3 linked regions of the Homo sapiens genome follow. The protein of the gene in region 1 purifies or fractionates together with the protein of each later gene. This does not show direct contact. Each region holds a gene or a part of one and is shown in the gene's direction. Other genes may lie near its edges.

What was found.
Region 2: the proteins of NUP50 (region 1) and PHF10 purify together in Homo sapiens (affinity purification with mass spectrometry; 4 studies listed by BioGRID and IntAct, with this or other methods). This does not show direct contact.
Region 3: the proteins of NUP50 (region 1) and NUP153 purify together in Homo sapiens (affinity purification with mass spectrometry; 10 studies listed by BioGRID and IntAct, with this or other methods). This does not show direct contact.

The regions. Positions count from the first base shown.
Region 1 is NC_000022.11:45,170,292-45,173,946, forward strand, and holds part of NUP50 (nuclear pore complex protein Nup50), read left to right. Parts: intron 1-696; exon of another isoform or gene 697-886; intron 887-1,308; coding exon 1,309-1,392; intron 1,393-3,655. UniProt on the Homo sapiens protein: Component of the nuclear pore complex that has a direct role in nuclear protein import. Actively displaces NLSs from importin-alpha, and facilitates disassembly of the importin-alpha:beta-cargo complex and importin recycling.
Region 2 is NC_000006.12:169,717,866-169,721,520, reverse strand, and holds part of PHF10 (PHD finger protein 10), read left to right. Parts: intron 1-409; coding exon 410-516; intron 517-2,602; coding exon 2,603-2,733; intron 2,734-3,614; coding exon 3,615-3,655. UniProt on the Homo sapiens protein: Involved in transcription activity regulation by chromatin remodeling. Belongs to the neural progenitors-specific chromatin remodeling complex (npBAF complex) and is required for the proliferation of neural progenitors.
Region 3 is NC_000006.12:17,626,829-17,630,483, reverse strand, and holds part of NUP153 (nuclear pore complex protein Nup153), read left to right. Parts: intron 1-944; coding exon 945-1,829; intron 1,830-3,655. UniProt on the Homo sapiens protein: Component of the nuclear pore complex (NPC), a complex required for the trafficking across the nuclear envelope. Functions as a scaffolding element in the nuclear phase of the NPC essential for normal nucleocytoplasmic transport of proteins and mRNAs.

The DNA.
Region 1 (3,655 bases):
TCTTGTGTCTTTATTTCTTACAATCTCTGTTTCCCCCTTCGAGGAGAACACCCGCAAAGCCCAGTAGGGCTGGACTCTACAGTCGTACCTTATCAGCAGTGTGTTACCCCCAGGCCAGATGACTAAGGAAATCTGTAACCACGACTTTCAGGTTAACAGCATAGTGCTAAGTGAAAAAAGAAAAATGTTAAAACTGCAACTGTTTCCAAGCTTATTCTTAGACGGCCATCTTCCTTCTTTTGGAATCTTTCTGGTACTAGTACTTTTTTTCTCTACAAGTGTATCTCCTCACATATGTTTAGGGAAACCAGAATCCCAAGGATGTGAGTGTTTTGACAGGGTCAAAACTGATTTGGTGCTTTTTAACTAAAATCTTTGGTTATGGGGGTTTTTGGTTTTTTGTTGTTGTTGGTTTAAGATCTTAAGCACAGTTACATTCTGGGCTATAGTAACATCTAGATTACCATGTAACTATTTGCTTAGACATTAAAATATTCAGGAATGAAAGAACTCCCATTCGAACATATGCCAATGAAATGTGTGGAAAGATTACATTTAGTTAAGTACATTTAACTTGGGGCAAGTGCAGCCAGATGGTCCCCTCTATGAGTGTAGGAGCCCGTTAAGTTTAATATGATCTGAAACAACTATAGGTGAGAATTTTTGCATGAGAAATATTTTATTCCGACCCTACAGGGTAAAAGAAGGGCTATAAACTAAAGCCGAAGATATTCAGCAGCTTTCTGACGTGGACATCAGAAGTGTGGACATGAGTGTGCTTTGAGCGCACTGTGGAAGAGCAGTGGTTGTCCAGCAAGGTCCTAGGTGCCTCCGTGGCCTTTCGTACAGTGGGCAAGTTGGGCAGGACTCATCTTAAAAATCATGTGTATGTTATAAATAACAAAATTTATTTATTTATTTTTTTGAGACAGTCTTGCTCTGTTGCCCAGGCTGGAGTGCAGTGGTGCTATCTCGGCTCACTGCAACCTCCACCTCCCGGAGGGTTCAAGTGATTCTCCTGCCTCAGCCTCCCAGGTGGCTGGGATTACAGGTGCCCACCACCATGCCCAGCTAATTTTTCATTTTTAGTAGCGACAGAGTTTCACCATGTTGGCCAGACTGGTCTCAAACTCCTGACCTTTGGCCTCCCAAAGCGCTAGTATTATAGGCGCAAGCCATTGTGCCTGGCCAAAATTTATTTTTGAGAGGCCGGACACAGTGGCTCAGTTCTAGCTTGTTGTTGTTGTTGAGGATTTTGTCATCTGTTTGGCTTTATCTTACTGCTGCTTAATTTGTATTGTATTGCAGGTGGGAACATTCTCCATGGCCAGTGAGGAAGTCTTGAAGAATAGAGCCATAAAGAAAGCAAAGCGCAGAAATGTTGGATTTGAAGTGAGTGCCCCCTTACAGCTCTTGCTATTAAATACTCATTTGATTTCTGGGTTGCACAGCAATCCCTCCGCTGGGAGCAATGATATCAACAAATGCTTTCTTAAAATACTTATTCTTTGATGTAGGTCATGGGAGATAGAAAAAAATAAGAAACGTCAGGTCTGGACCTTAAAGAGAGCTTATCCAGTTGAGGAAATAAGATAAATATAGACAAATTCAAGTTGAGTGACAATCTGGAGAAGAAAAATGAGCAAAGCAATACAGAGGTGGGCGAAGTGGCATCAGATTGGAGGAAGAAAGGAAAACGCAAGGATCTTCTGAGAGTCTTGTCTGCTCCCTGCGATTGAGGCCTTGGTAGGGGGAGCCCTTTCACTATACTAGAGGCATTTTAGGTGTGGATTTTTTGCTAGTATAGTATATTAAAATGATTCATTCCTGTGCTAAGAAGGATGGAAGATGAGTTGTAACTCCTAAATTGAAATAATGTGCTGATTATTAAGCAGTCACTCCGCATCTAAGAACTCGTCCCCAGTACATCCTCTCCCTTCAGATACATTCTAGACCCAGGAGAGTGTGGTCTTGGTGGCCTGGACATCTGGTGTTAGGCAGGAGATGCCGCTTTGAATATCCTGGGTGGCAGCTTTGAAATAAACCTACCCTACCTCACGTTTTGCAGTGTTTAAAACATCAAGAATAGACTATATTCTTGGGTGTCTCTAATCTGGAAATCCAAAATGCTCCAAGATCTGAAGCTTTTTGAGCACCAACGTGATGCTCCAAGGAAATAGTCATTGGAGGATCTCAAATGGTCAGGTTAGAGGTGCCGTGCCAGTAAGCATAATGCAGACTTCCTGGGAGCGGAAATACTTACTTTCCTGAGCGTTCTCCTTAAGGGACATGCAAGCTTATTTCCCTTTTATTTCCAAAAAAAAAGGATAGGAAAGGTGTATCATTCACACTTTGAGAAGCAATGAAAAGAAATTGTTATTACAAAAATATTCATTACATTGCCAAAGTTTTGATCATAAAATGTATTAAAGTTTGAAAACGTAAGGAAGGGAGCCAGGTAGGTGGCAGTGGTGGGGAGGCAGTCAGTAAGACGTTTACAACAGCCAGTCACTCAGAGCGTCTCATAAATGGTGGTATGTGTTAATGGGAAAACAATTCAAATTATAAAAATAAAGTATTCGCAATTTTCCTAAAATATATTACTGTATATACCAATATAGTGTAATTCGAGGCAGAGATACGTAATCCTACATGAAATCGATTCTCAGGTGGTTCTGGGTAGTCTTGAACGTCTTTAGGATGCCATGGCTAATGTCATAAGTGTGTGCTCTTTCTCTGCTCCATTGCATGCTTCAGATGCATGAGAGGAGCTTCATTTCCTGACGTTGTAAAAGCTCTTTCATGTAGAATTCAGGTTAACGGGTTGCACTGCCAAGAAAGGAAGTAGGTACAGAGGAAGCATATCTCAGATCCAAGCTAGAGATTAGGTCTTGTGTTTTGTAATTAATTAATTATATTTTGCTTAAAAATTGTATTTCTTATTTGACAAAAATTATATACTTATGGTGTACAACATGGTCTTATTTTCAGATGCATAATACATTTCTACCTGCCTGTTGTACAGTAAACCTCTTGAACTTCAGGTGTTTTTTTTTTTTTTTTGTCTGGTTTGATTTTATGAATTGCCTTGACTGGTGACTAGGTGGTAGACGTAGGTGTTGAGCTGAGTGATATTTGATGGCTCTTTCACTGGGAAGATACATGGGGGGAGGGACAGTTTAATTAAGGAGGAAATGGTTGGTCTTGGAAATGCTGTATTTGAAAGGCCTTGGTACACTCAAGTGGAGTGCCCTGGAAGACCACTAGGTATACAACAGGAATTATGGCAAGGATGGGCACAGCTCCGGCAGCTTTCGTCATGTGGGGGATTGAGGCCATGGGAATGGGCGACAGGAGGCATGCAGGTGGAGGGTCCTACGAGGAGTGAGAAACAAAGCTCACTGCAGAAGCCAAGGGAAGCCATTCTGAAGGAGGGGCAGTCACCTGTGCAACCGAAGGAAGTTCAAGAGGTAGAAATAGTACAGACCATAATCTACAACTTAAGCTGAAGGGATGAGGGAAGGAGAGGGCAGGAGCCCTTGGGCAACTAAGGGAAATTAAGTGTAGGTGGATAATAGAAATCCACAGATAATTTTAGCTGTAACTCTTAGCCTGAAGTTTTCATATATTAGGACAATTAAATGTCATGTCACCC
Region 2 (3,655 bases), on another chromosome or scaffold:
CAGGGACATAAATGCCTAAAGTAGTCAATTAAAATAGTCCTATGAACCGGCTTCAAGTTGAATTGAGAACTGTAAATGATCCATACATTTTTTTCCCCCTGAGCTTGGGTAGGAGAGTTTGCTTTAATCCTAGAGTGATGCAGCAGTTTGATATGTTTATGAAGAGCAGAAACCAAAGCAGATTTGCATTTACGGGTTCATTGAAAATGTTCTTATTTGGATTGGATTGAAGATCAGTTTTAAATTTTATTCCAGGTCTTGCTCATGCCAAACTCTTGGACCCTTTTAATTATAATATGAAGTTAATACTTGTATGACTAGTTGTCCTTAGACAGTCTTTCATTTATTGAGACTTACTGTTCTTTTATTCTTTCTCTAATTATTATTTTTGAATCTTTTAAATGTATAGGATGATAATGAAGATAATTCAAATGATGGGACCCAGCCATCCAAAAGGAGGCGAATGGGCTCAGGAGATAGTTCTAGGAGTTGTGAAACTTCAAGTCAAGATCTTGGGTACTGTCATTTTATCGGTTATTAATATTTTTTGTGATGTTCCTCTTTGCCTTAACATCCTCTTCCCTTTCCCCCAGCTCTGGCAAAGGCAATTATTAAAAATTGTAGAATATTTTCTTCCTGTTCTATAATGTGCCATCAAAGTTGGTCTTGCTACTGAGTGTAATTAAAAAGCAATTTTATGATAGTAAAATACATACATACATAAAATTAATCATTTTAACAATTTTTAAGTGTGAAATTCATTGGCATCAGTTACATTCACAGTGTTGTGCAGCCATTACCACCATCCATTTCCAAAACTTTCACTACCCCAAACTTTATAACCATTAAGCAATAACCTCCCTTTCTCCCTCTATTTAGCGCCTTGCAACCATCATTCTACTTTCTATTTCCGTGAATACGACTACTTAGTTACTTCATATAAGTGGAACCATAAAATATTTGTCCTTTTGTGGCTGGCTTATTTCTCTTAGAACTTTGAATATCTTCAAGGTTCATCTTTGTAGCATATGTCAGACTTTTTTTCTGTTTTTAAGGCTGAATAATACTCCATTTTATGTATATACTGATTTTGTTTATCCATTCAGATGTTGATGGGCATTTGGGTTTCCACCTTCTGGCCAAGGTGAATAATGCTGCAGTGAGCATTGGTGTTCAGAGTTTGTGTTTTCAGTTTTTTTGGATGTTTATCTAGGAGTGGAGTAGCTGGATTATATGGTAATCCTATGTTTAATTTTTTGAGAAGCTGCCAAACTGTTTTCCATAGGGGCTGCACACCAATTTACATTCCTACCAGCAATTCACAGTTTCCAGTTTCTTCATATTTCTCACCAATTTGTTATTTTTCATTTTTTAAAATAATAGTTACCCTAAAAGGTGTGGAGTGATATTTTATTGTGATTTTGATTTGCATTTTCATAATGCCTACTGATATTGAACATCTTTTCATCTGCTTGGCCATTTGTATAGCTTCTTTGGAGACATGTCTATTCAAGTTCTTTGTCCATTTTTTATTTGGGGTTTTTTTTGTTGTAGGAGCTTTTTAAATATATTTTATATATTAATACTTCATCAAAAATATGATTTACACATATTTTCTCCTGTTCTGTGGGTTGTCTTTTCACTGTCTTGATAGTGTCCCTGTACAAAATTTTTAATTTTGATGAAGCCCAAATTTTTCATCTATTTTTTCTTTTGTTGCTTGTGCTTTTGGTGTCATATGTAAGAATCTACCTTCAAATCCAAGGTTGTGAAAGATTTCTATGTTTTCTTCTAAGAGTTTTCTAGTTAGCTCTTATATTTAGGTTGTTGATCCATTTTGAGTTGTGATATGAGGTAAAGGTCCAATTTTATACTTTTGCATGTGGATACCCAGTTTCCCAGCACCATTTTTGAGAACACTGTTCTTTTTGAAGGTTACTTTTTAAATAGATGGATGCATAACATAGTGTCACTTTCCCATGTCCAATATAGAGGTTGAATTGGCCCATATCCTGAAATCTGTACTCTGTTACTCAGGATGGAGATCGACTGTGATACCCTGGCACCTTCAAACTAGGTCCATTCTTTGCTTCTGGGTTTGTGGAGTATCTGAGAACAAACAGTTACGGTTTATGATATGATGCACTGAGATAATAGGTTTTTAAGAGTTCTGTTTTCTCAGCTATTTATGACTCACTGAACAGTAGACAAGAGACAGAAGTTGATTATTCTTTGGGTGGATGAAATACTGGCTATGCATTTTAAGCCCAAGAGAAAGAAGTCAGAGCTGATACCATCATCACCTTGCTTTGCCCTCATAGGTCCTTTAAACTAAAAATGCCTTCGTTCTTAGCAATTGTGATTCTACGTTCTTCCCAGTGTATAAAAGATGTTATTTTCACATACCTTTTTGACTTGGTAGACCAGATAATTATTTCTATTCCTTGTACCTGTTTTGTAATTTTCTTTGATACACAGGAAGTCAAGTCATAGGAGGCAAATAATTTAAATACTTAAAATAGTTTTCAAAATATCCTCAATAAAAGTGATTAAAAATTAATGAAAGCTACATTTAATGCATAATATGTATTTCTGTACTTAGTTTTAGTTACTATCCAGCAGAAAACTTGATAGAGTACAAATGGCCACCTGATGAAACAGGAGAATACTATATGCTTCAAGAACAAGTCAGTGAATATTTGGGTGTGACCTCCTTTAAAAGGAAATATCCAGGTACTAGTTTATATAATAGATTAATTTATAATTGATAGTAATTCTTTATGATACACTGTCAACTTCTGAATTTTTCTGTAGATTATATTTTATATTCTTGTGCTTGCTGTTTTTTTTTAAGACTAAGGGTCTCATTCTGTAACCCAGGCTAGAGCGCACTGGTGCGATTATAGCTCACTGCAGCCTTGCACTCCTGGGCTAGCTGTCTCCCTGCCTCAGCCTTCTAAGTATCTGGGACTACAGGTGTGCACCACGACGCGTGGCAGATTTTTTTAATTTTTATTTTTTTAGAGATGTGAAGTCTTGCTATGTTGCCCAGCGTGGTCTCAAACTCATGGCTTCAAGCTATCCTGCTGCCTCAGCCTCCTGAATTGCTAGGATTACAGGTGTGAGCCACCACGCCTGGCTGTGTTTCATTTACTGCTATCATTCAGCATCACTCTTCATTATTGATATTTTCTATGGCTCATAAACTGATTTAAAAGCAAAATGGGAAAGGTGAATTTCCTGAGGAAAATTTTAGAAAAAATCATTTTATAGTCAAGTTTGGGATTTTTACCATTGTTTCTTGATCTAAGGAATAGAGTTAGCTATATGAGCCGTATCTGAATTTGAGAAAGGCTATTCCTCATGAACTAGTTTAGTATAGTTATTTATATGACCTTCTTGCTTTGGATTATTCTATTTCCTATTTTATTCTAACTTTTGTATCTTGCTGAGTTTTATTTCTTGAATTTATAAATTTTTTTGTAGCCCCTTTAATAATATTTGGAATATGTAATATGAATACTTTAAAAAGTCAAGGTTTTTAAGCTTTTAAAAGTTTTACAAGTGCATAAGGTTTTGCTGTTTTTAATAGTCTTTTGATCTTTTTTTTGGAGATTTAGAGCGACGAGATTTGTCTCACAAGGAGAAACTCTAC
Region 3 (3,655 bases), on another chromosome or scaffold:
TTCGCCATGTTGGCCAGGCTGGTCTTGAACTCCTGACCTCGGGTGATCTGCCCGCCTTGGCCTCCCAAAGTGCTGGGATTCCAAGCGTGAGCTACCACGCCCAGTCTGATGTTTAACTTTATAAACATTGCTTCAACTCTGTAATTCTTCTGTTTTTCTGTTGCCTTCCTTTTTTAAATGCTTGAGTGAATAACACATTTATTCACAAGATTTAAAAATCAAGAAATTGTGACAAGGTTCAATCTCTTCTCTCCATTGTCTCTTTTTCCACCTTCCCTCCCACTTCCAAATGTAACTGTGGTTAGTTTCTTGTAAATCTTTCAAAGTTTCTTTATGCCCATCCAAGGCAAACATACATACCCCTATATATTCTTACTTCCTTTTACCTTGTTAGAAAAGTCTGTATACCGCACTCCCTTTCTGCCCCTTTGATTTTATCAGGGATTATCTTGGACACATCTTTGTTCTTCCTTCTTCGTTTATAGCTGCCTGGATTGCATATGGCATTTTGCATGTCTATGAGTTTATCTTTAAAACAAACTCCAGCTATAGAATTGCAAGGTCAAAGGGTATATGCATTTGTAATTTTCGGTAACTATTGACAGATTGCTCTCTATGAGTTTTGTGTTCATTTATACACCCACCTGCAATGTGTAGCCTGTTACTTCCAGTCTCATCACTAGTACAAACTTTATCAAACTTTATCGCAGCCAGTCTGATAAATGAAAAGTGGCTTGTCAGGATAGTTGTGAGGATTGAGATATCATTCTCATACCGACTAAATATAGGTCACCTTGGATTATGTTTACAGCTGCTGGTAATACTCTTCAAAGTAGGCCCTTTCAAAGTTACTCCTATGTTTCTTTGGCTTTCACAGTGTTTACATTTTGTTTGAGAGGATCAGTACATTGAGTGTCTATGTGGTGTCTTTTATATTTTTGTAGGCTTTGACACATCTTCCTCATCTTCGAACTCAGCAGCCTCCTCATCCTTCAAATTTGGTGTCTCATCATCCTCTTCTGGGCCTTCTCAGACTTTAACAAGCACTGGAAATTTTAAATTTGGAGATCAGGGAGGATTCAAAATAGGTGTGTCATCCGATTCTGGGTCTATAAACCCCATGAGTGAAGGCTTTAAATTTTCTAAACCAATAGGAGATTTTAAATTTGGAGTTTCATCTGAATCTAAGCCCGAAGAAGTTAAAAAAGATAGTAAGAATGATAATTTTAAGTTTGGACTTTCTTCTGGTTTAAGCAACCCAGTTTCTTTAACTCCATTTCAATTTGGGGTATCTAATCTTGGACAGGAAGAAAAGAAAGAGGAACTGCCCAAATCTTCCTCTGCAGGTTTTAGCTTTGGTACAGGTGTTATTAACTCCACCCCTGCTCCTGCTAACACCATAGTGACCTCTGAGAACAAGAGCAGCTTCAACCTTGGAACCATAGAAACCAAGAGTGCTTCAGTGGCTCCTTTCACATGTAAGACATCAGAAGCTAAAAAAGAAGAAATGCCTGCCACCAAAGGAGGATTCTCTTTTGGCAACGTGGAGCCTGCCTCTCTGCCATCTGCCTCAGTGTTTGTTTTGGGAAGGACAGAAGAGAAACAGCAAGAGCCTGTCACTTCTACTTCCCTAGTTTTTGGGAAGAAAGCTGACAATGAAGAGCCAAAGTGTCAACCAGTGTTTTCCTTTGGGAATTCAGAGCAAACCAAAGATGAGAATTCTTCAAAGTCCACATTTAGTTTTAGTATGACAAAACCATCTGAGAAGGAATCTGAACAGCCAGCAAAAGCCACTTTTGCCTTTGGAGCTCAAACTAGTACTACAGCTGGTAAGTATTAACTTTTTATTATTATTATTATTATTTTTTTTTTTACAAGTTGTCGTTTTACAAGTTGCCTTGACAGATGCAGCAAGTCAATTAATGGTTTACACTGAACATAGTTGAGAAATACAGAACTCTTTGGGAAGGAACCTAGGATTTTCAGTTTGAACTGCTCTTTAAAACCCTCATGATTCTGGTGAAGTCATCTGTGGATCTAATTTTGAGAAATACAGCAGTAATGCAAAGCTCAATATAGTGCATATTTATGTGTGTCTTTCTCTTCTGTTTGGGCTTTTATAATCAGAATTGGTATCTACTACCTGGAAAATAAGGATTCTTAGCTTATGAAGTATTTTCTACCATAATCTATGGGAAGGCCTTTATTTACAAATAGTTACAGATAACCAGTCCTCATCAAACATTAAGAAACATAGACAACAAATATAATTAATCCTGAGAAAACAAGAGATTTTGAAAGCTGAAGTCCTGGGGAAAAAAATGACATAGCACCTTAAAGGTTAAAAGCATGATTGTTGGTGGATCCTATTAAAGTCATTCTGTGAGCTGAATAGCAGGAAGAACTTCATAGCTGATAATCAGATTAGTGAACTAGAATTTCCCCAAACTTAGTGCACCAGTACAAAGAGTGATCCAAGTTAGATCCACAAGTTCCTTTGGGATAGGAGTGGCCTAGAAGATAAGAAGTTTTGGGGAAATATCAAAGAAGTGACAGAAGAAAATTTTCTAGATCTAAAGAAAGACATTGGTCTTAAAAATGGAAATTACCTATTGGCAAAGATCACTGAAATTTAGGACACCAAAGCTAAAACCCCAAATGCTTTCAGAGAGAAAAGCTATTTGCCACAAATAGGCAGGTATCAGATTAGCATCATCTTCTAATTTGTAACATCACATGCTAAAAACAACAGTGCCCTTAAAGTGAAAATGTTCTTGAACCTAGAATTCTGTTACTAGCCAAATGTGTTTAAATATAAAGACAATCCGGGTGCCGTAGCTCACACCTATAATCCCAACTAGTCGGGAGGCTGAAGCACAAGAATCTCTTGAACCTGGGAGGCGGAGGTGGCAGTGAGCAGAGATTGGCCCAGTGCACTCCAGCTTGGGCAACAGAACAAGGCTCTGTCTCAAGAAAACCCAACAACAACAAAAAAACACCAACACAAAGGCAAAATACAGATGTTTTTAGATGTGCAAAAAATGCAAAAGTTGAATATCCATGAATACTTTTGAATAATAAATTGGAAACACTCAAAATTAACCTTTAAAAAGTATGGAATTCAACAAATAGCTATGAGCAGTTTTTTGTCTGTTATATATTTACTTAGAAATATAAAGACAAAATCAAAACTAAAATTACATATTATTTGGAAAGCAACAAAAACATGATAGGGTCTAATCAGATTTGATGATGAAAACACCAGGCTATGGTAGACACTCTTAACCATTCTTCCATTAGCCAGGTTGAAAGTAAGCCAACATGTTCCATTTTCTGTAAGTCATACTAATGCCCATAGTGTACTGTGACCAGCCCTGGATAGTGTGCGGTATTGGAACTGAGAGATTATTGGAATAGTTTAGAAAAAAATCTTCAATAAGGTGGCTGGATTCAGAATCACCATATAAAAATCAAAAGTTTTTCTTCAAATCAGCATGTCTCATTTGTTTTTCCTAACATTTCTAACTTGTATTTTATAAAAGCAGCAGAACTTGTAACATGCCAAATAACTAAAAGAACACAAAAGGCATACTTGTTGCTGGGTGAAGGTATTCCCTTCCTCCTCCCATAATTTTAGTTCTTAGGGGAATTTTTG